4 linked regions of the Homo sapiens genome follow. The protein of the gene in region 1 interacts with the protein of each later gene in a pairwise test. Each region holds a gene or a part of one and is shown on either strand. Other genes may lie near its edges.

Region 1 (6,942 bases):
ATAGATGCCTCACTCAAGTGAGTTAAAGGGAGAATGGGAGGTTTTAAGTAGAAAAGCACACCTACACTCAGAAGTTTTGCCCCAAAAGGATGGTGGTTTAGGTGGCTGATGAGAGGAGAGGGGTGTATAGAGGATTTTTGGGTTTTTTTTTTGAGATGGAGTCTTCTTGCTCTGTTGCCCAGGCTGGAGTGCAGTGGTGCCATCTTGGCTCACTGCAACCTCCGCCTCCTGGGCTCAAGCGATTCTGCCTCAGCCTCCCGAGTAGCTGGGATTACAGGCATGTGCTACCATTCCTGGCTAATTTTTGTACTTTTAGTAGAGACAGGGTTTTGCCATGTTGGCCAGGCTGGTCTCGAACTTCCGACCTCAAGTGATCCACCCACTTTGGCCTCCCAAAGTGCTGGGATGACGGGTGAGCCACTGCACCTGGCCAAGAGGGCTGATAGTAAATTATTGCAAGTGAAAAAACTAACGATGCAAATGAAAGGGGTAGCTATAGAAGCCAAGCCCTTGAGTATGCAAGAGGGGAATCAAGTGCCCAAGTGGGAAGACTAGCATTAGATAGGAATAGGGCCAATTCATCCTTTGCAACCAGAGGAAAGAAATACGGGCACTGAAGCAGATTTAGTGGTGGAAAATCAACTGTCTCTAATTTGATCAGATCTATTTCTATACATTATTGACATTCTGGCTTGGAAATCTCTTGAGCTTTCCTTAGATTGATCAGGGTGAGCTGGTAAAGCTGCTTTTCTAAATCTAAGCTTAAAAAATGTCTGACATTTCCTTAATTTATTTTTAAGGGTTCCCGTTTGTTAGTGGCAAAGAGTTAAATCTTAAGTATGCAGGCTACTTAAGGAATAGAAGAGAAATGTTAAAGGCATGTATATTATGAACAGAATATTTCCGTATATAAATAGAATACTTCAAAGGGAGTTATGCCCGGGATCCTTTATTCATCTCCACTTCTGAGCATTTTACAGTTCAGTGTACTTAACTGTAAAGGTATACAGGCTCAAGTCGTTGCATATTCTTCCTGTTTTGATAGAAATTGCAGGGATTTATGTACTGAATCTTATTACTCCTTAGATATGTGACAACTGGAAAGCTCCCCACCAAACCCTCCAGCCTTGGTTACTTCTTAATGATGTGGTTTGGCACAATGAAAATGTCATAGGCTTTGTGGTGAAACTGACTTCTGCCTCCACTCCTGCCAACACTTATTATTAGCCTCTTAAGTCCCCGAGCCTGTTTCAGAGGTAATCTCACACAAAGGCTAGAGAATTAAAAAACATGTAGAGAGCCTGGCACTAATACCTACCTCCCCCACCAGCAGCTCTTAATTATGAGATCAACCACTATTATTTTAGACCAGAGTTTTGTTGGGGATTGGGTTTGTTTCAGAAGGCACTATTTTAAATAAGATGTGTAGCTTCTATTTAGATATTTGCCTTTAAAGTCAGCTGAGCTATTTTCCTATTGTTTGCAAATTTACTTTTATTTAAAAAAATAAAATTTCCTAAAGCAGTGTTTCCCCAATATGACAGTCATCAGAAAAAACCACCTAGAGTTTTCTAAACATAGATTCCAGTGATTGTAAATCAGAATCTGAGAGTGGGACTAGAAAATACTTAATTCTATCCTGTGGTACAAGCTGGTCTCACACTTGCATCTTTGCACCTAAGACTAGATCAAACTGGTACTAATCCTCTGGCCCCAGCATCCCATCCTTGGGGAAATAGTCTAGTTTAGAGGTAGTCCTGGACTGGAGCGCTAAGTCCAGCATTCCTCACCTGCATAACACTACCCACATGATCATATGTCCCCTGGGCTCTCAAGCTGATAGGAAAAAGTCGTCTTGCTAAATGAAATCCCCCAACCTCTTGGTAATGTGAAGAACTGTACTGCAAAGCTTTGAAGCAATCCTATGTTAGGCATGCGGGTGGGAACGGGGCCAGACAGAGGGAAAAAATGGAATAGAATGATCCGAGAGTAAATAATTCTTGCTTTATTATGAACCAAGTCACATTTTGTCTCTTCCAACAGATGCTTGAGCCAAAAAAGCAAACATAGGCAGAAATACAATTGAGAATATCTTCATGTTTCAACCTTTAATCTGACTTGCCTTTTACTATCCTTTCCCCATTTCTTCTAATCTCTTTTGCCTTACAATATATTACCTTCTAGGTATCACCTCATCCTATAGAATCCCTTCTAGTTTAATGTCCTGCCCCAAACAATACTAACCCATTGAAGATAACTATGAAACCTTTAAATGGACAGTGGTTCCTTTTAAAAGCAGCCTTACTGAAAATTTTATATACACTTAAATCAAGTAACAGTTACCGTGAGTTTTCTAAACTTTTGTGTTAACAGAAATGCCAGTTCAGCAGTGTGACTGTTACTTTTAAATGTCTGTCTTGCCGCCCTAGAGTGACAGACATCCCAGTTAAACATATTAGGAATAAGAAATACATAAATCCAATGAAGACTGTAGAAAAAGAATTTTAGCACTTGAAGGAACTTCAGTCATTTAACCCAACCCATTCATGTTATAGATTGAGACCATAGAAATAAAAGTAGCCTATAGGATACAAAAGTTAGCGGCAGATCTGAGATAAAAATCCAGCTCTTTGGATCCCCGCGTTTTTCACCACACTTAGCTGTCGTTCCCATGTATTACGAACAAAGAATCAAATATAATCAAGTGCAGCCTCACTTCACAGGCAAGAAAACAGACTAGAGTTTAATATATTGCCCATGTTTATCTTAAGGTGAAACATTTACTCTTACAACCACAGTTGATGTTAACCTAGTTAATAAAATATGAAAGGTAATTACTAGGGGAATTTTAAACGGCACTACATAAGCAAACATGACTCAAATTACTTTTTCCATTTCTGCTTCCCAAATTATTGGAGTTACTGAAGCAAGCTATGCTGCTTTCAATTCCAATGATAGGCATATTCCCAAATAAACTCATTTAAAGAGCTCATAAAATGAATTATCCTATTTCCAAGTCAGTTGATTAGCAAATTAAGATACAGCTCCAAGTTACCCTACTGCTTAAGGGTTTTCCGGTCCAATTTGTAAGGTTTTCGGATTTAAAGATTCAGACTGCATACCAAAGGTGGACAAAGACAACGCAAGCTGATTTAGGTTGTCACGTGGCACATACTCTAGTTTAAACCCTCAACTACAAGAAAAGAAATGGTGTATTGTCATTTTTGCCAAAGCACCCCAAAATGAAATACTTTCTTACTCAATCTAGGTTCTTTTTTTTCATTCTAGTCCCTTAAGCTCCTAGGATTTTTAGATGTTGAAAATACTCCCTGCGCCCGGCATTCAATATTGTATGGTTCATTAGGATCTGTTGTGGCTGGCTTTGGACATTTTTTGTTCACTAGTGAGTATCTGTATTTTTTATTTCTCTATGTACTAAAAAAAGCATTTCTCTACATAATGAACTATTTTTTTTTCTAGGTGGAGTAATGTATATAACGTAATTATATTCTAATTAATTGTTATGCTTATTTTTACAGGTAGAATTAGAAGATCATGTGATGTTGGAGTAGGAGGGTTTATCTTGGTGACTTTGGGATGCTGGTATGTTTGCTAAGTATTCAAGAACATCCATGATTATAGTAGGTTATCTAATTCAAAAAGCACATGCTCTTTTCAGAGCAGTCTCCCATTGGGAGATCCTCACCCTCAATGAAGAATCTTGATTTTTCAGGACATTTTCATGGAAATCTTAAAATGCTTGAACAGATAAATGCATATTAGACATCCCATTAAAAAGAAAGCTGTGGTTTTTACACTTCACTTAGGAAAGCCTCAACCATTTCCCTTACCCTAATACTTATTTCATCCCTGCTTATTCATATCTGAAAATGCTACTTTAAGAATGTGTTTACAACTACTGATGAGTGAATATAAAATATGGATGAACCTCAAATATTTGCCAGACCTAAGAGTATGATATGTATGTACTATATGGTTCCATTTATACATGAATTTCTACAGTGAGCTATTTAAGGTGGTAGAAATCATTTTATGTAGACATAGCATTATTATCCCGTTAAAAACGAGAGCAAATACTTGTTTCTTATAATAGCCAATGCTATCAGAAGACTTAAAAACTAATGGATTTTATCACTTTACAAATTGTTATGTAGACATCCTTTTTTTCCTAATAAAAAAAGAATGTGTTGATAGGTATTCTGACACCAAAACTGCCCAAAAATAGCACTATAAATTAGAACATATTTTTCAGTCTCAGGGTAGTAGTCATCTGTATTTAAGTTTTGTGTGATTTAGAGAAATTTCATAAATTAATTTCTGTAGGACTTTATATTAACAATTTATTCATATTCTTTTCTTCTAAGGTTTCATTGTAGGTATAATTATGCAAAGCAAAGAATCCAGGAAAGAATTGCCAGAGAAGAAATTAAAAAGAAGATATTATATGAAGGTACCCACCTCGATCCTGAAAGAAAACACAACGGCAGCAGCAGCAATTGAACAATCTTGAGCATAGAAGTCAATGTAAACGAAGTTAAGATCAACCACATAAAACATTTCATGTGCAATAAGCTCTCAATCAAGTAAATAAAGTTTAAGTTGTAGTCATTTTTTTCCCACACTTGTGTGGAATGAAAACTTGCCAGTTTATTCTGGCCCTGTGTCTACTGCCAGGATAGCATTCTTACGTGTTACATATAGTGGACTTGTCATCCTTAAAATGTGAACAGAATTTATTGGCAGTGTGGCAAAGAATTATAAAACATAGTGTTTAATGTACTTGGAGTTTCCTTGTAGTAGTAAGTATAGAGTTTGATGATAAGTAAACGTCCCTTAACAAAAACCTCAACCTTATTACTATCCCATTAAAAAACAGCAAATACTTACTGAGTTCTTGTAAGAGCTAATGTCATTGTAAGATTTAAAACTAAGGGCTTTTATCACTTTGCAAATTATTTTTTAAATGCATTCATCATTTGACAGTGTTCTCTCATTTCTTAAAATGCGAGTCATCTTCCAAAAGAGTTGTTTTTAACTGCCCTAAACATTTTTGGGGAAGTATGCAGGGTTTAAATTTTTAAGTATAATTAGTTCTGAATTAAAATATGCACATGGAACTTGTCTGGCAGACTGATGCAATAGTAAAACAACTGCAGAATTACTATTAATGTAAACAATCCATTTGAAAGTCAATCAGCTGCTCCCATTAAAATATTATTTAAAATACAATACCCACAGCATCTAACTAAATCCTCAGGATTTATTCTCCGGGAGAAATTATCCCTTTCTAGGAAAATGAAGTTATTTCTGGTTTTAATTCATACAATACTTTAAGAAAATCTGTTAAATATAACAAAACACAAGCTAGATGCTTAAGAAATGCTTAAAGAAATATTGGGGCGAAGGTAACAGCAGTCAACAGGATTGTGGCCATTACTGGTCCTATTATTTTGATGTACCATGGAAGGCACAGAAATCGAGCAAGGAAGAAAATATTAGTTATTTTGATCTACATCTTTTTCTAAAGAAAAGTGGAGCTTGCCTCCAGTTCAATTCACAAGAGCATTTTCCCTCCCATGCCCACCTTTTCTTGTGGCTGTCGCTAGGAAGGATGCAGAGGCTGTGTGGTTTACCAAATGCCTTAACTTAGCAGTGAATGACAACTGTCAAACACATGTTGAGGGAAAATTTTTACTGATTCACAAAAAGGAAGACAGTTTGCCCACTCTTAGTGGCACAAATCAAAGCTGCATGCACTACATTATCCAAATTAGTCGTAACCAAATAGTTAAAAAATTCTGCTGGGCACGGTGGCTCATACCTGTAATCCCAGCACTTTGGGAGGCCGAGGCAGTTGGATCACCTGAGGTTAGGAGTTTGAGACCAGCCTGGCCAACAGGGTGAAACCCTGTCTCGTCTAAAAATACAAAAATTAGCCGGGCGTGGTGGTGCATGCCTGTAGTCCCAGGTACTCAGGAGGCTGAGGCAGGAGAATCACTTGAACCCGAGGTGGGGCAGGCGGAGGTTGCAGTAAGCCAAGATCGCGCCATTGCACTCTAGCCTAGGTGACAGAGTGAGACTCCATCTCAAAAAAAAAAAAAAATTCCATAGGATGTTCAACCATGTTTTCAGAGGCCGCACTGCATGAATGCGGGAAAATGTTGATGATCACTAATCAATAATCTGATATTTAACAAAATATGGACAGGCCACTTATGCTCAGTTTTACCTTAGTTATTCCTTGGTATCCACAGGCCCAAGTCCCTTTAAATAAAATACCCTCATATTTCCATATAATCTACATACATTCTCCCATATACTTTAAATCATCTCTAGATTACTTATAATGTCTAATACAAAATAAATGCTATGTAAATGTAATTATTATACTGTGTATTTTTGTTGTTGTTCTTCATTGTTATTTTTTGTCTTTTTACCTCCAGTATTTTCAACCCACAGTTGGTTGAATCCAAGGATGCAGAACTGGAGGACATGGAGGGCTGACGTGTAACATACATAACATATAAAACAGGTCCCTTCCAGCGCTAGCACACTGCAATTACATCTTACCCTGAATAAGAGAGAAACTCTGTTTTGGCTGGTAAAATTTCCAATGTCTTCACCAATAACAAAGCTCATTTTCACAGAAGTTTGCATAAACTGGAAACCTGGATAAAAACAAAGTTGTAACATATTTGGTTGGATTATTTTTTAAATGTTTCATGTATTTACATGATCACTAATAATTTTTATTCTTATGCTATTAAGATTTTACAAGTGTATTAATAAATTACCAAAGTCTGTAACACCCACCCTCAATAAGGAGAGACTGGTAGAACGAAAGTCTCTCCTATCAATGTCTACCCTACCATCCAACTTCACGTCCAAACTATTTAGTTTTTTGCCAAACCTTCAATGCAC
Region 2 (7,000 bases), about 130 Mb from region 1:
CAGCTGGTCTCAAACTCCTGACCTCAGGTGATCCACCCGCCTTGGCCTCCCAAAGTGCTGGGATTACAGGTGTGAGCCACCAGGCTTGGCCATATTTTTCTTAAAATGTATACCTAAACTCATGTGTATGGTAGATTTTACAATTAAAGAAACTAAAAATAATACAAGGTTATTGAAAACAATAATGTAAAAGGATACACATGGTCACAGTTTAAAACTATTCATTCTATGACTCATAAACGCAGTAATTCTTTCCAATAACCAAGTGCTCAGATGGGATGCAAGTTTGCTGGGGCTCTTAAGGAGCTATTAAAAAGAAATGTTTAATCTGTAGGTCATGTCATTTATTTAGAACTGGGGATGCCAAATTCAATAGAAAATACCTCACTAGCTATAAATGGTAGCTACACCCTATAGTCCTGAATACGATAAACCTGGAGCTACTGGCTTTGCTGTTTGTTTTTGCAAATCCTTGACTTTGATTTGACATTCTCTTTGGCTCAACTGTATTCTCTTGACTACCTTGGGAAAATGCCTCACTCAGTTTAACTTGGGCCAAAAGCTTGCGTACTTAACACAGGGATCTGGATCTGGTGTTTAATAGCTGATTAATTTTCTCATCAGCAAAATTGGTGTGATAGTAATAATCCTCTTTATAGGGTAAAAGAAACAATAAAGTCAAGCCCTCTGATGATAGTCATTTTTTTTAGTCACTCAGCTTTACTTTTTATTCTTTTAGAATTTCATTTTGTGACCAGTCCTTGTGAAAATGTAAATCCAAGTGCCCTGCCCTTTCCCTAATTGAGGGTCTGGTGTCATACAACAATATGCTTTTTCCCCAGGATTTAATTCTTGTCATTCATAGATGGAAAATAAAATTGGAGTTTATTTCTCCTAAGCCTTCCTCCCACACCCCTCCCCATAGAAAGACTTGGTTTCTATTGTATTAGAGGCAGGTTCTGTATTCTTTTTGATTCTGTGAGTTTCTTCATGTCTTTCAAATATATTGATTTGTGCTTCTTAGAGTTGGTTTTGATTGCTTACAAAATTAAAGCCTAAGTGATATAAGCACCAAATACAGTCTCTGGCACATAGTAGGCACTTGTAGTGTTTGTTGATATGATTATTTTCACAATTGAAATGTTCCCTGAACAACACACACTAGGGCCTGTCAGTGGGGGTGGCACGAGGGAAAGCATCAGGAAAAATAGCTAACGCATGCTGGGCTTAATATTTAGGTGATGGGTTAATAGGGACAGCAAACCACCATGGCACATGTTTACCTATGTAACAAACCTGCACACCTTGCACATGCACCCTGGAACTAAAATAAAATAAAAATTTTTCCTGGCAGCACTTCTATTAGACTTTCTCTGGTTCTGAGAGTAGAACAAAACACTTAACCTACCAATCACAGGAAGAATGGATACAATTTAGTTTCCAAATGTGATAAATGGATAAACCTGTCTGGACTCACAAGAACTCTGCTAAGGTGCTGAAATCCCATAATGATCACCCATATTCCCGCCAACTGCATTCCTGGTATTGTCACAAGACAGCATCATATAAGCAATACAGAAAATATGTGCTAGAGTACATAAAGTAAATCAAAAGAAGGAGAGAGCATTAAGATAGAAAAGATCTGAGTTGGACTTTGAAGAACTGCTAAGATTGGGATAGGCAGTGAGGATAAGGAGACACTGCAGGCAAGACATTACAGGCAAGGAGTGGAGGGATACCTTGAGCAAAGACATGCAAGGCATGTTTGAGGGCAAAGAATAGTCCTTTGGCCAAAAGAGAAATGTATTATAGAACAATGGTAGTGAATTATGTTTGGAAGGGGTAGATTGGAGTTAATTTAAATACAAAGTTCCAGAAACGGTCAAGTTGCAAATATTTCTATGAAGAGACTCATTTCAATATCATCTATATTATTTCTATCCATTAGCAACGCAGTTTTTAGGGGATGTAATTTGAAACTACAGAACACTAGAGAGTTCTTGGTGACCTTTATAGGGGACATTTTGAGATCCAAACATTCTTAGATAAAATTATCATTTAGTCATGACTTGAAGCCATTCCAAAGAACATGTGTGAGTAGAATATTGAGAGAGTAGCACCTAAAGAAGGAAGATTTCTTAGGCACTGATTGTACAAATTACATATGAATAATTCCATGAGGAAAAAAAGGTTTAAGAACAGCTAATAACTTCCAAAGTTTCTTTTTATTTATTTTTCCATAAAGACTTGCTTTGATGCCAGACACAAAATGTCCACAATAGAAAATCTGACCACAGTATCTAAACAGTTGCTTATCAGCCCTTGGAACTGCCAAAAAAGCTATTAAACTGGTGTTTTCCATGGTGATGGTCTCCACCACCCTGTTAGGAGCCATGACATTGTTCTGTCCTTGTTGGGCAGAGAAGGTGGTGATGCTGGTGGTGGGAGGGTGTAGGTTGAAGGTCTTGGGAGGGTGTTTGTAGAAGAGAAGGTCCGTTGATTTACTGATTAACTACATACACATCTGGGTCAAATTGTTCTCTATTTAGAAGCCTTTGTGATAACCACAGAATCAGAACATATAAAAAGCTCTGCGGGACTGGTGCTGACTGCAACCATGACAAAGCTTATTCTCCTCACAGGTGGGTTTGTAATCAGAGATTGACCCTTCATCTTATCTAGTTTCTTTTTCTCTCACAGGCTCTGAAAATCATGAAGTGGTCTTCATACTACATCCCTATACTTTTCCATTCTTCTTTCATCATTTCAAATTTCAAATGAATCTTGTTATATACAAATCAGTCTGCCTCTTGTTCTCTTAACTTCAACTGACTCTGGTAACATTTCTGCTTTTGTTAATCCCATGGACCTGGTCCTAAAGGAAAAGCATACTTTCTCCTAGTGCTAGTCTTACTCTTTCATCTTTTGTTCAGCCATTCATTTTTCTTTACTCTTCTTCCTACGCCATCTCATTTTAATTGGAATAATGTTTATTTATTTGCTTGTGTCCTTGGACTAGCTTTTCTGGGGAAGAAAATCAGTAGGAACTGAGATAGAGTTATGCAAGTTGTCTTTGTTCTGCTGTTTTCAGAATTATTTCTCTATTTACTCCCCTATTATCCTACTGAGTTGATGATGTACCATAAACATGTTAGAAATTAAATTATTCAAAGAGGTTGATTCAGTAAGTTGTTTAGAGACAAGTCATACCAAGAATTTATTAGTTGCTCTAGAGCTGGGATTTGCAAACTGTTTAAGCTTCAGAACCTTTTCCAAATGAAACCTCAAGCTCAATTTATAAAACAATCAGAGTAGAAGAATTGCTTTGTAGAAGTCAGGGAAAGGTATCTGGAGTCTCACCCCATAGTTCCTAGCTCTTCTCTCCTCATATAAGGCCTCCTGAAAGTCATTCCAAAAAACCACTAAAGGCCAGAAGATACTGAATTCTCTGATTTAGCAGATGCCTTATCTGTTGGAAGGCTGTGTTCTATCACTCAGGTAGGGGAAGAACGAATGGATGTGTCATCATTGACTACAGTGATCAGTTGGTGATTTCAGTAAGTACATCTTCCATAGATAGTAAACTTCGGACTCAGCATTCAGGAACATTTATTTGTGACAAGAAAGGTGTGAGACGAAGGTACCACGGTCATTTTTGATAAAGGTGGGGAAAGGTAGATCTACTGTTGTATTCACTGAAAAGCCTTTGGAATCACCACCAAATCTCACTGAGGTTGTAACAATTTATGGCAAATTGGAAGGCAATCAATCCTTCAGAATTAGATTCTACGGGGTACAGACAATCGGTTCAAAGTACATGCTTTTTCTTTCTATCCAGGTCTTGTCCTTATACTGAATTTGCAGCTCGGTAAGTCATGGACTCCATGTTTTATCATTGAATGTATATATACGAGATAAACCATACTATGGAAAGAGAGCCGCTGTTTGCTTCACAGACAGATGGGTTTGATTTGGGAGTAATCTAGTGTTTTGGATTGGCTGTCACTGCTATCCTCTTCAGCATGACCATCTGAATTATAAACTGGTACTCACTGGGCTTCATAGGACTATGGGCATCTTTTCTTAGAAGGCTGCTAGCTAGGCTTATCCAAAATCCCAAAATGAGTCTGTGAAAGTTAAAAATAAACAACTCCAAGTTAGTGACCAGTTCTGAGTTAGAATCTTAGGATGCATTTGCAAGAGTGTTCATACTAATTACCTCCACACAGAGATCAGGCATCTGAGGCACAGGGAGGGAAACAGAGGCAAGGCCAAAACTCACAGCACACTTCAGTGGATCCTAAACCAGGCCATTGTCCCTCCTGCTGACTACACACAGGCTCTGCCTACCAGCTGACATGCTACTTCACCAACTGGGCCCAGTACCGGCCAGGCCTGGGGCGCTTCATGCCTGACAACATCGACCCCTGCCTCTGTACCCACCTGATCTACGCCTTTGCTGGGAGGCAGAACAACGAGATCACCACCATCGAATGGAATGATGTGACTCTCTACCAAGCTTTCAATGGCCTGAAAAATAAGTAGGATGAGGGAGATATTTAATTTGGCATCCCCTTTTTCAGTACTTCCCAAACATTAATGCTTCTTAAAATGTAGTTCAGATCCATGGATCTGAGATGGGGACCAAGACTCTGCATTTCATTTTTCTTTTATAACTGACAAAAATTGTATGTGTTTACTATGGACAATGTAATGTTTTGAAATATGTATACGGTGCGGAATGGCTCAATCGAACTATCAACATATGCATTTCCACAAATACTTAATGTTTTTTGTGGTGAGAACACTTAAAATGTACTGTTTGCAATTTTCAAAATACAATATATTGTTACTAACAATAGTAACCATGTTGTACAATAGACCTCTGCAACTTATTCCTCATTTCTAACTGAAATTTTGTATCCTTTGACCAACATGCCCCCCAACCCCCATCCCCACACCACCCCCAGCCTCTGCTAACGACCATTCTACTATATACTTCTATGAGTTCAACTTCTTTTAGATTCCACTTATAAGTGAGATCATGTGGTATATGTCTTTCTGTGCCTGGTTTATCTCACTTAACATAATATCCTCCAGGTTTATCCATATTGCTGCAAATGACAGGATTTCTGCCTCTTTTTTAAGACTTAATAGTATTCATTGTATATAAAGACCACATTTTCTTTGTCCATTCATCCATTGAGGGGCACTTAGATTGATTCCACATCTTAGCTACTGTGAATAGTGCTGCAATGAACATGGAAATTCAGATATCTCTTCAACACACTGATTTCATTTCCTTTGGATGTAAACCCAGTAGTGTAACTGCTGGATCATATGGTAGTTATTTCTTTGATTTTTTGAGGAACATCTATACTATTTTCCATAATGGGTATACTAATGTTCATTCCCACCAACAGTGGGCAAGAGTTCCTTTTTTTTCCATGTCTTTTCCAACACTTACCTTTCATCTTTTTGATAACAGCCATTCTAAGCGGATTGAGTGGTATCTCATTTGATTTTGATATGTATTTCTCTGATGATTAGTGATGTTGAGCATTTTTTATACACTTGTTGACCATTGGTATGTCTTCTTTTGAGAAATGTCTTTTCAAGTCCTTGGCCCATTTTTTAATCAGGTTATTTGGTTTCTTACTACTGAGTTGTATAAATTTCCTATATATTTTTGATACTAACTAACTCCTTACTTGACATATGGTTTCCAACTATTTTCTCCCATTCCATAGGTAGTCTCTTCACTCTGTTTCCTTTGTCATGCAAAAGCTTTTTAGCCTGATGTAATCCCATTTGTCTATTTTTGCTTTTGTTGCTGCACTTTCCAGTCATATCCAAAAAATTCTTGCTGTAGCTCTTGGAGCTTTTTTTTAAGGTTTTCTTTCAGTAGTTTTACAATTTGAGGTCATAAATTTAGATCTTTAATCCATTCTGAGTTGACTTTGTTCAGTTTAGTCATATTTAAGAGAAGGAAAGCTACAGGTGATTGCTACTATCAGTAATGGCATTATCGTGAATACAGCTACTAGAATTTAAGTTACAATGACTAAGAGTAAATAAACTCCTTTACGGCAGTGTTTCTTGAAGTGTGCTCCATTGACTACTTGCCTCAAAATCATGTGAGGTACCTGAGTAAGTGTTAGTCCCTACTGCAATCCAACCGAATTGGAATCTCAGGGGAAGGGGCGATAAACCCAGATTTTTCATGTTGTCCTCCCACAACCCTTGCACTTAATTATTATGTATGTTAATGTTTGGGAATCTCTATTCAAGAGAATGTGTATAATTTCAAGCCAATTAATTTATTTTAACATTACAGAGGCTAAAAATGTAATTAAGCTCAAGCAACATTTACCATTTTATCTGATAGAATAGAATATTATATTAGCTATTCATGTTTTTTAAACTTACACAATCAAAGATACTGCCAACACACAATATTTTTTAAAGCCCAGTTTCAAAATTTAGATTTCCCTAGGGAACCCTGAGTGCATTCATGACAGGAACAACACAAAGAATTTTTATAAAGGAAGTTTTCAGTAGGGGAGGAAAATTGTTCTACAAAAGGCAAAACAAAAATATCTGACCAGATCCAACACTAAAGCAATGTATTTTAAATGGAGGGAGTCCTGACTTTTGAAGTTTATCTGTTTCTATCCTTTGTTTTACAGGAACAGCCAGCTGAAAACTCTCCTGGCCATTGGAGGCTGGAACTTCGGGACTGCCCCGTAAGTCTTCTATGGAGAGCATGTTGTTCGTTTGCTATGGAAAACAAGTTAGCCCCATGTGATCACTGTCCCTTTAGACTTCACAATCTAAGACAGGGTATTGAGGATGTACATAAACAAATATATGAATTAAATATATTGCTACACCAGAACCTCATTATTAAGTGGAACACAATTTATTTCATACATTTAATTTGGTGGACATTTGGGGGCCCTATCCACAGAGGTTTACTTACTGAGGTTCCCAAACAACC
Region 3 (6,416 bases), on another chromosome or scaffold:
CGGGTCAGGAGTTCAAGACCAGCCTGGCCAAGATGGTGAAACCCCGTCTCTACTAAAAATACAAAAATTAGCCAGGCTCGGTGACAGGCGCCTGTAATCCCGGCTACTTGGAAGGCTGAGGCAGGAGAATCGCTTGAACCCGGGGGCCGGAGGTTGCAGTGAACTGAGATCGTGCCACTGCACTCCAGCCTGGGTGACAGAGTGAGATTCCATCTCAAAAAAAAAAAAAAATTAAGTCATATATAGGTTTTTATTTCCTGGGTAAAGATAGGGAGCGGGGAGAACTTTCTAACTAAAAGCAGGGAGCTGTGTGGGGTGTGGGGCTTTGGAGTCAGGCAGATGCCACTGACCTTGCTATGTGCTTGGCTTCTCTAAGCCTCAGTTTCCTCATCTGAAAAATGGGGAAATAACCCCTGCCCAGCGTCAGGCCTACTGACACTCAGTGCCATATGCTACTCTTGATTGTTTAGGACTGGAAGATATTCAAGCAAACACGGACCAACCACTTGACAGGGATCTCATAACTGTTAGAATTGGATTAGGATTACGTTTAGCTGCATGTAATAGAAAACCAAAAATAATCATTTGGGCACATATAGTGTTATTTTCCCTCACATAAAGGAATTTGAGAGGTTGGCGATAGTCTGGTCTGGTGGCTGCCGGACAGCTCCAATCATGGGACCCAGGGTCCTTCCATCCTTGCTTGGTCCACCCTCTTACTGTGTGCCTTCCACCCTCAAGATTACCTAGAGGGTTGCTAGACCAGTCCTCTTGCTGGACCAAGAGGGTTGCTGTTGCTCCAGCCTTCACATTCCTGATAGGGGGAAGAGCAAAAAGATGTTAAACTCTTTGAAGGATCCTTTCTGAAGTTCGACTCAATACTTTCTGCTTACTTCTCAATGGCCAGAACATGGTCACATGTTCTTACCTACCTGCAAAGGAGGCTGGGAAATGTGTTCTTTTAGCTAAGACACAGAGGCCCTGAATAAAATCAGGGTCCTGACACTAAGTGTCAAAAGACAAAATTACAAGTTTAGTTTAAAGCTCTCAATTGGCTTTGTGATTCTAGAATCAGGCAACACTTGATTTCCTAAAATAGAATAAGGGTTCCAATGAATCAAGCAGTGAAAGTTGGCTTTATAGACAGGAAGAGGGTGGAAAAAAGCAGAAACTAAAAACAAAAACCAGGCTAGGTGCAGTGGCTCACACCTATAATCCCAGCACTTGGGAGGTGAGAGGTTCGCTTGAGCCCAGGAGTTAGAAACCAAGCTGAGCAACATGGCGAAATCCCATCTCTACAAAGAATTTAAAAAATAGCCGGACATGTTGGCACGTACCTATAGTCCCAGCTACTCAGGAGGCTGAGGCTGGAGGAGTGCTTGAGCCCAGGAGTTCAAGACAGAAGAAAAAAAATTAAAACGGAGGGAACTTCATTATCGTGCCACTTGAAGATTGAAACTGGCCTGTTTCTGTCATGTCAGCACTTTGGGAGGCTGAAGTGGGCAGATTCCTTGAGCCCAGGAGTTCGGGACCAGCCTGGGCAACATGGTGAAATTCCATCTTTACAAAAAGTAAAAACAAAATTAACTAGGTGTGCTAGAATGTGCCTGTATTCCCAGCTACTTGGGAGGCTGAAGTAAGAGAATTGCTTCAGCTCGGAGTTGGGATCACACACTGAACTCCAGCCAAGGCCACAGAGCAAGATGCTGTCTCAAAAAAAAAAAAAAAAATACCGGGCGAGATGGCTCACATCTGTAATCCCAGCACTTTGGGAGGCTGAGATGGGTGGATCACCTGAGGCCAGGAGTTCGAGACCAGCTTGAGCTGAGGAAAAAGAATCGCTTGAACCCGGGAGGCAGAGGTTGCAGTGAGCTGAGATCACGCCACTGCACTCCAACCAAGGCAACAGAGCAAGACTCTACCTCAAAAAAAAAAAAAAAGAAAAAAGAAACTGGCCCATTTGGGAAACTGGCAATCATCTCTGTCTCCCGGTGATTTGGAACCTCAGTGTGAGTGACCCCATCTTGACGTTTAGTCCAGTCTGCTGGGGCCTGGTGCAGGAGCCTCATCCGAAGCAGTAGCCTCCTATAATTTCTATTTAGCAATTGTCTGACACTAAGGAAGAAGGTCATCTGGGATGGGCAGCCACCATTCTCTCCAGGACTCCTTTACAAGCTACAGGCTGTACTCATCGGCCCCTCACACTCCAACAAGCCTGGGTTTGCCCTGTGACCTCTGAGGTGGCGGCAGGGTATCTGCGGGGAAAATAAACACTTAGTGAGCAAGGAGCCTGGTGTCAGTAGTGCCGCCAGCCTCAGAGGGTTAAGGTGGAGGCTGGCTGGGCGGAGTCAGTAAAAGGAGTGTGAAGGGAAGGCCTGATCCTGGGAGAGGTGGAGGAGGGAGGGAGCCAGCCCGGAGAGGCAGCAGGATAGAGGACAAGGGCAGAGAGTTTCAGGGAGGGGAATTTTCCATACACTCATGACCATGCTGCTGATGGTGCAGCCCAGCACTGGCAGCAGCTGTCACCTGCTGGTGTGGTGGAACCGGTTCTAATGGGAGGCCTCTGTCTGCATCTGCCAGCATCATTACCATGCCAGTCATTAGATATATCTTTTTTCTTTTTTAAGGCACAGGATCTCGCTCCGTCACCCGGGCTGGGATGCAATGATGTGATCACAGCTCACTGCAGCCTGGAACTCCTGAGCTCAAGAAATCCTCCTCCTGGGCCTCAGCCTCCCCAGTAGCTGGGGCTACAGGTGCACACCACCATGCCCAGCTAATTTTTGTTTTATTTTTTGTAGAGACAGGGTCATACTACGTTGCCCAGGCTGGTCTTGAACTCCTGGGCTCAAGCGATCCTCCCACCTTGGCCTTTTAAAGTTCTGGGATTACAGGCATGAGCCACCATGCCCAGTCCCTCATTCAACGTTTTTAATATCCCTCCTGGGTATGAGAGAGTGCTGGAAAGCTTAGTATTGAAGCCAGACAGGGTTCAAATCCCAGATTCAGCTCTTATTAATAGTGTGGCTTTGAGTAAGTCGCTTATTCTCTGTGAGGCTCAGCATGCCTGTGTGTAAACTGAGTATACTAGTAGAACCGTACCTACCCAGAGGTGATGGGTGATGAGAAGGATGCTATGCGCCCTTTTCTGCCCATAAGCAGTCACTAAATGTTAGCTGATAACCCCTGGAGAAGCACAGACACGACCGACTGAGCCTTCCTCTCCAAACATCTTCTTAATGTAGGCATTTTTTTTTTTTTTTTTTGAGATAGAGTTTCGCCCTTGTTGCCCAGGCTGGAGTGCGATGGTGCGATCTCGGCTCACCACAACCTCCGCCTCCCGGGGTTCAAGCGATACTCCTGCCTCAGCCTCCCGAGCAGCTGGGATTACAGGCATGTGCCACCACGCCCAGCTAATTTTGTATTTTTAGTAGAGACGGGGTTTCTCCATGTTGGTCAGGCTGGTCTCAAACTCCTGACCTCAGATGATCTGCCCGCCTCAGCCTCCCAAAGTGCTGGGATCACAGGCATGAGCCACCGTGCCCAGCTAAGCACAAGTAGGTGTATCTGGGGTTATCCTTCTCCAAGAAACACTCAGAGGTCTGCAGACCTTTTGTTATTCTCTGCCCTTCTAGTCCAGATGAGCAAGGAGAAGATAGAGATTTTTGCCCTACATCAAAAGGGTTAAACCCACAGCCACAAATGGAGCTGCCCAGGCCCTTGGCTTTTGCTTATACCTACTCACCACTGCTGGGAAACTGATTCCCTGCAGGAACACTGACTAAATTGGGGGTGGTTATTTGTTGTTGTTTGTTGTTGTTGTTGTTTTGTTTGTTTATTTGTTTTGAAACGGAGTACGCTTTTGCCCAGGCTGGAGTGCAATGGTGCGATCTCGGCTCACTGCAACCTCCACTCCCTGGGTTCGAGCAATTCTTCTGCCTCAGCTTCCCCAGTAGCTGGGATTACAGGTGCACGCCAATACGCCCGGCTACTTTTTGCATTTTTAGTAGAGACAGGGTTTCACCATGTTGGCCAGGCTGGTCTCGAACTCCTGACCTCAGGTGATCCCCCCACCTCAGCCTCCCAGAGTGCTGGGATTACAGGAGTGAGCCACCATGCCCAGCCTAAATTGGGGTCTTGAGGCACCAGTGTAGACAGAGAGGTGCCAGGAGGGGTCCCTTATAAACACTGTTCTAAATCAACATCTGCATCCCTTCTCATTTGTCAGAGTCACAGCTGTCACTCCTCCTGTGTCCCTGTGGTTGTACTTGCCCCTGTGCACACGCCTCCAGCCCTTTCAAGAACATTTGTCATTTTTTCCCTATGTACCTGCAAAGTTGGCAACAAACTGTCCCATAGACTTAGCCCACTTGGAAGGCTGCTCCAGAAGCTCAAGACCCTTGCTCTATGGGTACCTGTGACATCACCAGTGGCCACAGTCCCTTGTGACCTCACCACTTGGACAACTCAGCCCAGCTGGGTTGCAGCCACTCCCTCCAACCGCCACAAGCAGCAAAGGGCATAGATGACCACAGGAGAGCCCTAGGGGGAGGCCGGCTCCACCAGCAGCCCCATACATGGCACTCCCAGGGTACCCCCTGGGCAACGTGGATGACAGCAGGTCTAAGGACAGCCCAGCAGGAGAGCCCCAAGGTCAGGTCCCACTCACAGCAGATGTCTTGGCAGTGAGCAGCTCTGTCGCATCCACTGACTGGCAGGATATAGATCAGGCCTCCTTCAAGACGGCCACCCCCAGGGCCATATCAACATCTGGAGACAAAGACAAGAGTGCAGTTGTTCCAGAACACGGCCAGAAGACACCCAGAAAAATCACACCTCTGCTTCCCAGCCAAAATCCAAGTCCCCTGCAAGTGTCTATGAGCCTTCAGAATCCAGCGTGGGACAGGCAGGTTCAAGACGCAAGGACAAGTCAGAGTCTAGTGGTTTTCCCAAGTCACCTCCTGGGTAAAGACAAGATGTCACAAATGGCGAGTGTTCCTGAGAGAGAGCCGGAGTCAGCCCCCTCTGCCCCGAGTGCTGAGCTACAGTCCACCCAGCACATGGAGGCTCAGCCCGTCGAGAGTGATGCTGACCATGTCACAGCAGGTGCCAATGGCCAGCATGGCCCTCAGGCTGCCAGCACCACCAAGTCTGCTGAGGAGAAAGCTGAGCATCCAAAGGCCCCACACCCTGAAGCTGAAGCTTTACCATCTGATGAGTCCCCAGTGGCAATGGGGGCAAATGTGGTGGACAGCTTAGGAGACCTGCAGACTTGGTTCTTCCCTCCACCTCCAGCAGGCAGTGTGTCCCCGTCGCCTGGCCCCCACGAGGTGGCCCTGGGGAGAAGGCCCCTGGACTCCAGCCTGTACACGGCCAGTGAGGAGAACAGCTACATGCGCTCCATGACCAGCCTGCTGGACAGGGGCGAGGGCTCCATCAGCTCCCTGGCAGACATCCTGGTGTGGTCCGAGACCACCATGGGCATGGCCATAGCCACAGGCTTCCTGGATTCCGGCCACAGCACTGTGGCAGACCTGCTGCACAGCTCGGGGCCCAGCTTGCGCTCGGTCCCCAGCCTGGTGGGAAGCGTCAGCTCGGCCTTCTCCTCTGGGCTGGTGTCAGGGACCAGCTCAGCCCTGCGCACCATCACCCGTGTGCTGGAGACAGTGGAGCAGAGGACCGTGGAGGGCATCCGCTCAGCCATGCGCTACCTGACCAGCCACCTCACCCCACGCCAGGCCCAGGCTGACCCCAACTATGATTAGAGCCCTGCACAGGGACCCCCGAAGGGCTGGTTCAGTGGCCTCCAGAGATCCCTGGGACCCTCACGCCCTGCTCCCTTGCCCATTCTTGCTCTGGACGGTTCCCCCAGCCCATGCAATAAATCACCAGTGAGCATTTATTTCTAAGCACCAGCCTCCTCCCTTGGGGTGCAGTGAGCAACACGGTGACAGGACAGGAGGGCTCGGGGTGCGGTGGAAACAGCGTCCCCTGAGGGTTTCTCAGGCTGTCCCATTCAGGGGCTGGGGGCAAACGTGCAGAGAAGAACCTGGACAGAGCTGGAGGCAGTGTGGCGGGGGGTGTCTCAGACCTGCAAAAACCCATCCCTACTGAACCTCCACCCAGGTAAGCTCCTGAGGAGCCTTCCCAGGGGCCTAGGCTGGCCTGGCGGGCTCAAGCTGAGAGGCAGAAGAGGCAGTGCAGTTGACAGTACTGAGTCACACCATGTGGGTTCAAACCCCAGCGCCAGCACTTGCCCTGGGCGAATCACGTCACTCTCAGCCTACTCAGCTGTAGAAAGGAGAGAATAAATCCATACCATGACACTGTTATAAGACAGAAGGGAAGCGATGCAGGCCATAATGCATGGTGTCTGGCACTTGATAAGCCCACACATGGTGGCTGCCATTATCATT
Region 4 (7,042 bases), about 41 Mb from region 1:
CTTAGCTGTGGATTTCATGGGGGAGGGGTGGGCTTCTGCGTTAAGTGGTGGGGTGGGCGGTGGTGACATGTTTACTCATTTGAGGACAACCAAGGGAGGCACAAGTTGAAGGAGGGAAGATAAATAGACCAGTTTGGGATTGAAGATTAGCCCAGTTCAAGATGGCTGAGAGAAAACCAGGCAGATATGCCAAGTAAGCAGCTAGATATGAGTTTCAAAGCCCAAAGAGAGGCATGGACTAGAAAGAGAGACATCAGTGTCATCAGCATACAAGGGAGGTTTGAAGACGTGAGAGGCTGGGTGTGGTGGCTCATGCCTGTAATCTCAGCACTTTGGGAGGATCGCTTGAGGCCAGGAGTTCAAGACCAGCCTGAGCACATTGCAAAACCCCTGTCTCAACAACAAAAAAATTTAAACCAATTTTAAAAAATTAGCTGGGCATGGTGGCCAAGTGCCTGTAGTCCCAGCTACTCAGGAGACTGAGGTAGAAGGATCCCTTGAGCCCAGGAGTTCAAGGCTGCAGTGAGCTATGATTGTGCCATTGCACTCCAGCCTAGGCAACAGAGCGAGATCCCAGCTTTAAGACAAAATTAAAAACAAAAATAAACACATGGGAATACATGTGGAAATAGAATGAGAAGAGAAGTGAGCTTGGGCACAAGCCCTGTGCAATTCAAATCCCAAGAAGAAGAGAGAGAAGTAGGAGCTGGCAGAGGAGACAGAGAAAGGGCAGTTAGAGCAGTAGGAAGAAAATCAAGAACGTGTTGTGCACAAACCAAGAGAAAGGCTGTTTCAACACGGCAGTGGTCAGTTCTAACAGATGATGGTTCACACCTGCCCATTGGATCTGGTAACATGAAGGTCATTAATGGCCAAGGCAAGAGCATTGCCTGCAGAAGTGGACTGGACTGGGTTGGTTAAAGGCACTTTTTATTTTTTGTTTTGTTTTGTTTTTGGTTTTTGAGATGGAGTTTCACTCTTGTTGCCCAGGCTAGAGTGCAATGGCATGATCTTGGCTCACTGCAACCTCTGCCTCCCGGGTTCAAGCGATTCTCCTGCCTCAGCCTCCCAAGTAGCTGGGATTACAAGTGCCCGCCACCTCACCGGCTAATTTTTTGTATTTTTAGTAGAGACGGGGTTTCATCATGTTGGCCAGGCTGGTCTCGAACTCCTGACCTCAGGTGATGATCCACCCACCTCGGCGTCCCAAAGTGTTGGGATTATAGGTGTAAACCACCGTGCCTGCCCAAAAGGCACTGTTTGGAGCTCAAGACTAAGTTCAAATCCTGCTTCTGCCAGCTGCTGTGTATCCCCAGGCAAGTGACTTAACCTCTGTGTTTCAGTTTTGTTTGTGAAATGGTGCTAATAGTAGTACCTATGTCACAGGTAGTTATGAAAATTAAATGTGTTAATATACTTAAAGCATATATGTGCTTAGACTGTGCCTGGCCCAGTATGTTCATTACACTATCAATCACTATTGCTAATTTTAAAAAGTGAATGAGGCTCTTTCTCTCCTTATTTCCCTCCTTCCTCTTCCTGAACAATTCAGTCTTAAAGCCATTAGGTTTAACACAGAGAAGGCGGTGCCCAGAGTGGGGTGTTAGAACCCCAGCAGGGTGAGAAGGGTGTTCACACTAGGGGTGGCCTGGTACAAAGTATCATAGGCAAAGCATCCCCTGCAGGGTCAGGGATGGGGTGGTGAGGGGCCTGGCAGATACTGCCTTAAGAATAAAGAAACATTATCAGCTATGGGGCAAATTGACATCTTGCACCACCTACCAGGATGCAGTGAGAAAAATACAGCATCACATCTTGTGCTATTTCTGCCTAAGATGCATAACCTGAAGCTAGTCGTGAGGAAACATCCGACAAACCCAAATGGAGGGATGGCTACAGAATAAGTGGCCTGAATCTTCAAAAGTGTCAAGGTCATGCCAAGGAAAGACCAAGGAGCTGTTCCAGACAGAAGAGTTTAAAGAGACATGATCATTAAATACCACACAGAATGATGAACTGGATTATTTTGCTATAAATGATGCTACTGGAGTAACTGATGAAACTTAAATGGAGTCTGAGGGTTGGAGGATAGTCACATATCAATGTTAGTGTCCCAATTTTGATGGCTGTATGTTGGCTGTTTAGGAGAATTTTTTGTTTGCTTGTTTATTTCAATAGGTTTTTGGGGAACAGGTGGTTGGTTACATGAATAAGTTCTTTAGTGTGATTTCTGAGATTTTGGTGCACCCATCACCCGAGCAGTGTACATTGTACCCAATGTGTAGTCTTGTATCCTTCAGCCCCTCCTACCCTTTCCCATGAGTCCCCAAAGTCTATTGTATCATTCTTATGCCTTTGCATCCTCATTGCTTAGCTCCCACTTGTGAGTGAAAACATATGATGTTTGCTTTTCCATTCCGGAGTCACTTCACTTAGAATAATGATCTCCAATTCCATCCAGGTTGCTGCGAATGCCATTATTTCATTCCTTTTTGTGACTGAGTAGTAGTTCATTTTTTATATATATATATATATATATATATACACACACACACACACAAGTATACATATATACACACATATGTATACATATACACATATGTATACATATATACATATATGTATACATATGTGTGTATATGTGTATAGATACACACATATATACATACATGTGTGTATATATGTATACATATATATGTATATGTGTGTGTATATATATACACATCACAATTTATTTATACACTCATTGACTAATGGGCATTTGGGCTGGTTTCATATTTTTGCAATTCCAAACTGTGCTGCTAGAAACAGGCATGTGCAAGTATCTTTTCCGTATAATGATTTATTTTCCTCCGGGGAGATACCCAGTAGTGGGATTGCTGGATGAAATGGTAGTTCTACTTTTAGTTCTTTAAGGAATCTCCACACTGTTTTCCATAGTGGCTATTCTAGTTTACATTCCCACCAGCAGTGTAGAAGTGTTCCCTGTTCACCACATCCACGCCAACATTTATTTTTGTTTGTTTGTTTTTTGATTATGGCCATTCTTGCAGGAGTAAGGTGGTATCACATTGTGGTTTTGATTTGCACTTCCCTGATCATTAGTGATGTTGGGCATTTTTTCATGTTTGTTGGCTGTTTGTATATCTTCTTTTGAGAATTGTCTATTCATGTCCTTAGTGTCCAGGAGTTTTAAAAACCACACCAGAGCATTCAGGGGTGATGAGGTATGAGGTGGCAACTACTTTCAAATGGTTCAAGAAAAATATTCTTTGTACTGTACTTGCAAGTTTCCTGTACATGTGTGATTGCTTTAAGAAAAGGAAAAGGGGGAAAAAAGACGATGATGTTCTGAGACTCACTGCGTGCCTGAGGCCAGAAGGACTCATCTGCCTGCTCCATGAGATATTGTTTTCTTGGAGCTGTAGCTGATTTCTGGAGCAAGAAAGACATTGAACCTGGCTTTTCTTAAAGTGAGCCACAAAATGGGGAGTCAGGGAAGCCTGGCTTGTCCGTATCGGGTGGCCATGGGCTCTTCTTGGCAGCAACTCGGGAGTTGCAGAGCAAGGAGCTAAACAAGGGCACCAGTGCAGCCATCAGTGTACCTTGCCAGGGAGATCTAAAGCTGGTCTCTGAGGTCTGGGGAGGTCTCCACTTCTAGGTGGCGCCTGGAGAGCCGGGCCTCCCTGAAGTTACCTTGGCCTCCCAGCTTTTTTCGGCTGGGTGTAGGCGTGACAGCCCTGGCCGCCTCCAGCAGAGGGCGCGCTGCCCAATCTGTCTGGATCACGGGGACCGTGCCGGGCAGGCACACCTGTCACTCCTGGGGGCATCTGTATGACATCCCCACCCCTCCACTCTTTCTGCCATGGTTGCTGCCTGAAAAGAACTTTAGGAGTAACCTCTGGCTGGATAACTTGACTAAAATAGCTAAGCTACTCCAGAAGCAAGAGGCAAAGGCGGGTCTGAAGCTTGTGTGTGAGAAACAGAGTTTCTGACCCTTTTCTGTGGGGTTTCGTGTCCCACTGAGCACTGAGAGCACTAAGTGTGGCCCATAAAGAAGGCTGCCCCCATCACAGGAGAGTCCTGGAATTGCATCTGCCCTTAAAGAAGAGTGTAGAACAGGTGGAGGAGGGATAACTATGGCAGCCAGCAAATCACTGCTGCAGAAGAAGAAGGAATAAACAGGAGAATGGACATCATGTGTGAATGTGAGAAACTTACGCTGTTTCCACAAAATGAGTATGAGGCTGTTCTTAAGTGTGTGCAGGATGAACATATAGAAAGTTCAACAAAACGAAATGAAAACCCCGTAAAATGTGCACATCGTGTTTCCACACAAATACACCTACTGAGGGGGAGGAAAGGGTGTATAGTCAGAGCTGAAATCAATGACAGATGTTTTTATGGCAGGCATAAGCCAACAACAGATATTTTATAACAAGCATAAAAACCTAAAACACTTTTATCATTTGGGTTAAAGAAAGATGACTGTGGTCTTCCTCCACAATATTCTGACCTACACGAAATTATCTTGGTAATTCAGGTAGATGTAACTCTAGATTCTCAATGTGTTGTCTCTGAGGATGGAAATGTTGACAAAACACAACCTTCATCATGACCCATGGGGGTGATATTCTGCTGAGCTGTCCCAGCTTCTAAGAGATTTAATTCAGGCCAGCAGGAGGAGGTAGAAGTAGGAAACAAGCCCAAATAGATCACGAGGCTTGTCAGGAACACAAGGAATCAGCTTTTAGTAGAAAATGGATTCTGGGCAGCTGGGTGATATGTTGAGAGAAATTATGTTACACTGGGTCCCAACAAAATCCAGCTTCTGCCAAAAGTGAGATCCAGTAAGACTGGCATGATACCAGACTATGAGTTGAGCAAGGTTTCAGTCTATAATTTGAATGCTAGATCTTATCACTGTATTTTTCTGTTTTCTTTTTTTTTGAGATGGAGTTTTGCTCTTGTTACCCAGGCTGGAGTGCAGTGGCATAATCTCGGCTCACTGCAACCTCCACCTCCCGGGTTCAAGCAATTCTCCTGCCTCAGCCTCCCACGTAGCTGGGACTAGAGACGCATGCCACCATGTCCAGCTAATTTTTGTATTTTTAGTAGAGACGGGGTTTCACCATGTTGGCCAGGCTGGCCTTGAACTCCTGACTTCAAGTGATCCACCCACATCAGCCTCCCAAAGTGCTGGGATTACAGGTGTGAGCCATTGAGCACCTGGCTTCATTGCTGTATTTTTGATGATTCTTTTAAAGAAGCTCTTTGACCTTTTTTCTGTATTGGAATTGATCCTAATCCTCTTAAAATCTGCATAGCAACAGATGATGGATTAACTACCCAGAAGATGATTATGTTGTTTCATTTTCTTTCAGTTGTAAATAAAACTCAGCCAGTAAATCTAGTCTTGATAATTTTGTTTTTGTTTTTACAATTCTGCCTCTAAACACCAGAATAATTTTTCCCCTCACTTTTAACAACTATCTGCAAAAGCATAATAATAATACCAATTTCATAGAGGTTATGAGAACTGATTCTAACAAGTCCAGTAAAATTTTTGACGAGGGCATCAAGACCATGAAATGGGGAAAGAACAGTCTTTCCAACAGATAGTGCTGGGAAAACTGGATATCCACATGCAAAAGATGCAGGTGGATCCTTACCTTATACTATCTGCAAAAAGTAACTCAAAGCAGATCAAAGCCCTAAAAATAAGAGCTAAAACTATAAAACTCTTAGAATAAAAAATAGGGGAAAGCATTACAGCACTGGATTTGATAATGATTTCTAGGTTATGACATGAAAAGCACAGACAACAAAAGAAAAAAAAGACATCAATCAGACTACATCAAAATTTAAAACTTCACCGCATCAAAGGACACAGTCAACAGACTGAAAGGTAACCTACAGAGTGGGAGGAAATATTTGCAAATCATACGCTACATAGTTAATATCCAAAATATATAAAGAACTCCTACAACTCAACAACAAAAAGAACAACCTGTTTAAAAAATAGGCAAAGGACTTAACTAGACAATTCTCCAAAGAAGATATACACATAGCTAACAAGCACATGAAAAGATCATTAATCATTAATCATTAGGGAAATGTAAGTCAAAACCACAATGTATACTACCTTATACCCATTAGCATGGCTGCTATCAAAACAAAACAAAACAGATAAAGTATTGGCAAGATGTGGAGAAATTAGAACTCTTGTGTACTGTTGCTGGGAATGTTAAATGGTGCAGTCACAATGGAAAACAAAATGGCAATTCCTCAAAGAATTAAAAATAGAATTACCATGTGATCCAGTATAATTCCGTTAATTCCACTTTGTGGGGTATATACCTGAAAGGATCGGAAGCAGTGTCTTGAAGAGATATTTTCTTATGCTCATATTTATGGTAACACTATTTACAATAGGTAAGAGATGGATGGAAGCCACCCAGATGTCCATCAACAGATGAATGGATCAACAAAATGCAGGGTACAGATAGCAATGGACTATTATTCTGTTTTAAAAAGGAAGAAAATTCAGACACATGCTACAACATGAAGGAACCTTGAGAACGTTATGATAAGTGAAATAAGACAGTCACAAAAAGACAAATATTGTATGATTCCACTTATAGGAGGTTCCCAGAGTAGTCAAAAATTCATAGAGAAAGTAAAATGGTGGTTGTTGGAGGCTGGTGGGAGGGGAATGGGGAGCTACTGTTTAATGGGTGTAGAGTTTCAGCTTTGCAAGACGAAGAATTCAGGAGATGCGCTTAATACCACTGAACTGTACATTTTTAAATGGTTAGATGGTAAGTCTCATTTTATGTGCACGTTGCCACAATTTAAAACTTAAAAAGGTAACAATTTAAAAACAAAGCAACAGAATGAATTTTTATTTATTGACTATCATAGTGGCAAAGATAAGTAAAATGAACAATTCTGAGTGCTGGAGAGGGTTAAGGAAAAAAGGAACTATATATCCGGTTATTGTACAAATCGTCTTGAGGGGAGCGATCTGAAATATGTTTAT

Evidence for each region.
Region 2: the proteins of COX20 (region 1) and CHIA interact in binary tests that used the Homo sapiens proteins (3 or more experiments, as listed by UniProt).
Region 3: the proteins of COX20 (region 1) and TEX44 interact in binary tests that used the Homo sapiens proteins (3 or more experiments, as listed by UniProt).
Region 4: the proteins of COX20 (region 1) and GOLT1A interact in binary tests that used the Homo sapiens proteins (3 or more experiments, as listed by UniProt).

What each region holds. Positions count from the first base shown.
Region 1 is NC_000001.11:244,838,656-244,845,597, forward strand, and holds the end of COX20 (cytochrome c oxidase assembly protein COX20, mitochondrial), read left to right. Parts: intron 1-3,288; coding exon 3,289-3,403; intron 3,404-3,539; coding exon 3,540-3,603; intron 3,604-4,385; coding exon 4,386-4,521; 3' UTR 4,522-6,402; downstream 6,403-6,942. UniProt on the Homo sapiens protein: Essential for the assembly of the mitochondrial respiratory chain complex IV (CIV), also known as cytochrome c oxidase.
Region 2 is NC_000001.11:111,307,851-111,314,850, forward strand, and holds part of CHIA (acidic mammalian chitinase isoform c precursor), read left to right. Parts: intron 1-2,549; 5' UTR 2,550-2,617; coding exon 2,618-2,642; intron 2,643-3,838; coding exon 3,839-3,868; intron 3,869-4,339; coding exon 4,340-4,541; intron 4,542-6,689; coding exon 6,690-6,746; intron 6,747-7,000.
Region 3 is NC_000002.12:231,588,375-231,594,790, forward strand, and holds TEX44 (testis-expressed protein 44), read left to right. Parts: upstream 1-4,489; 5' UTR 4,490-4,577; coding exon 4,578-5,765; 3' UTR 5,766-5,902; downstream 5,903-6,416.
Region 4 is NC_000001.11:204,203,979-204,211,020, reverse strand, and holds part of GOLT1A (vesicle transport protein GOT1A), read left to right. Parts: intron 1-7,042. UniProt on the Homo sapiens protein: May be involved in fusion of ER-derived transport vesicles with the Golgi complex.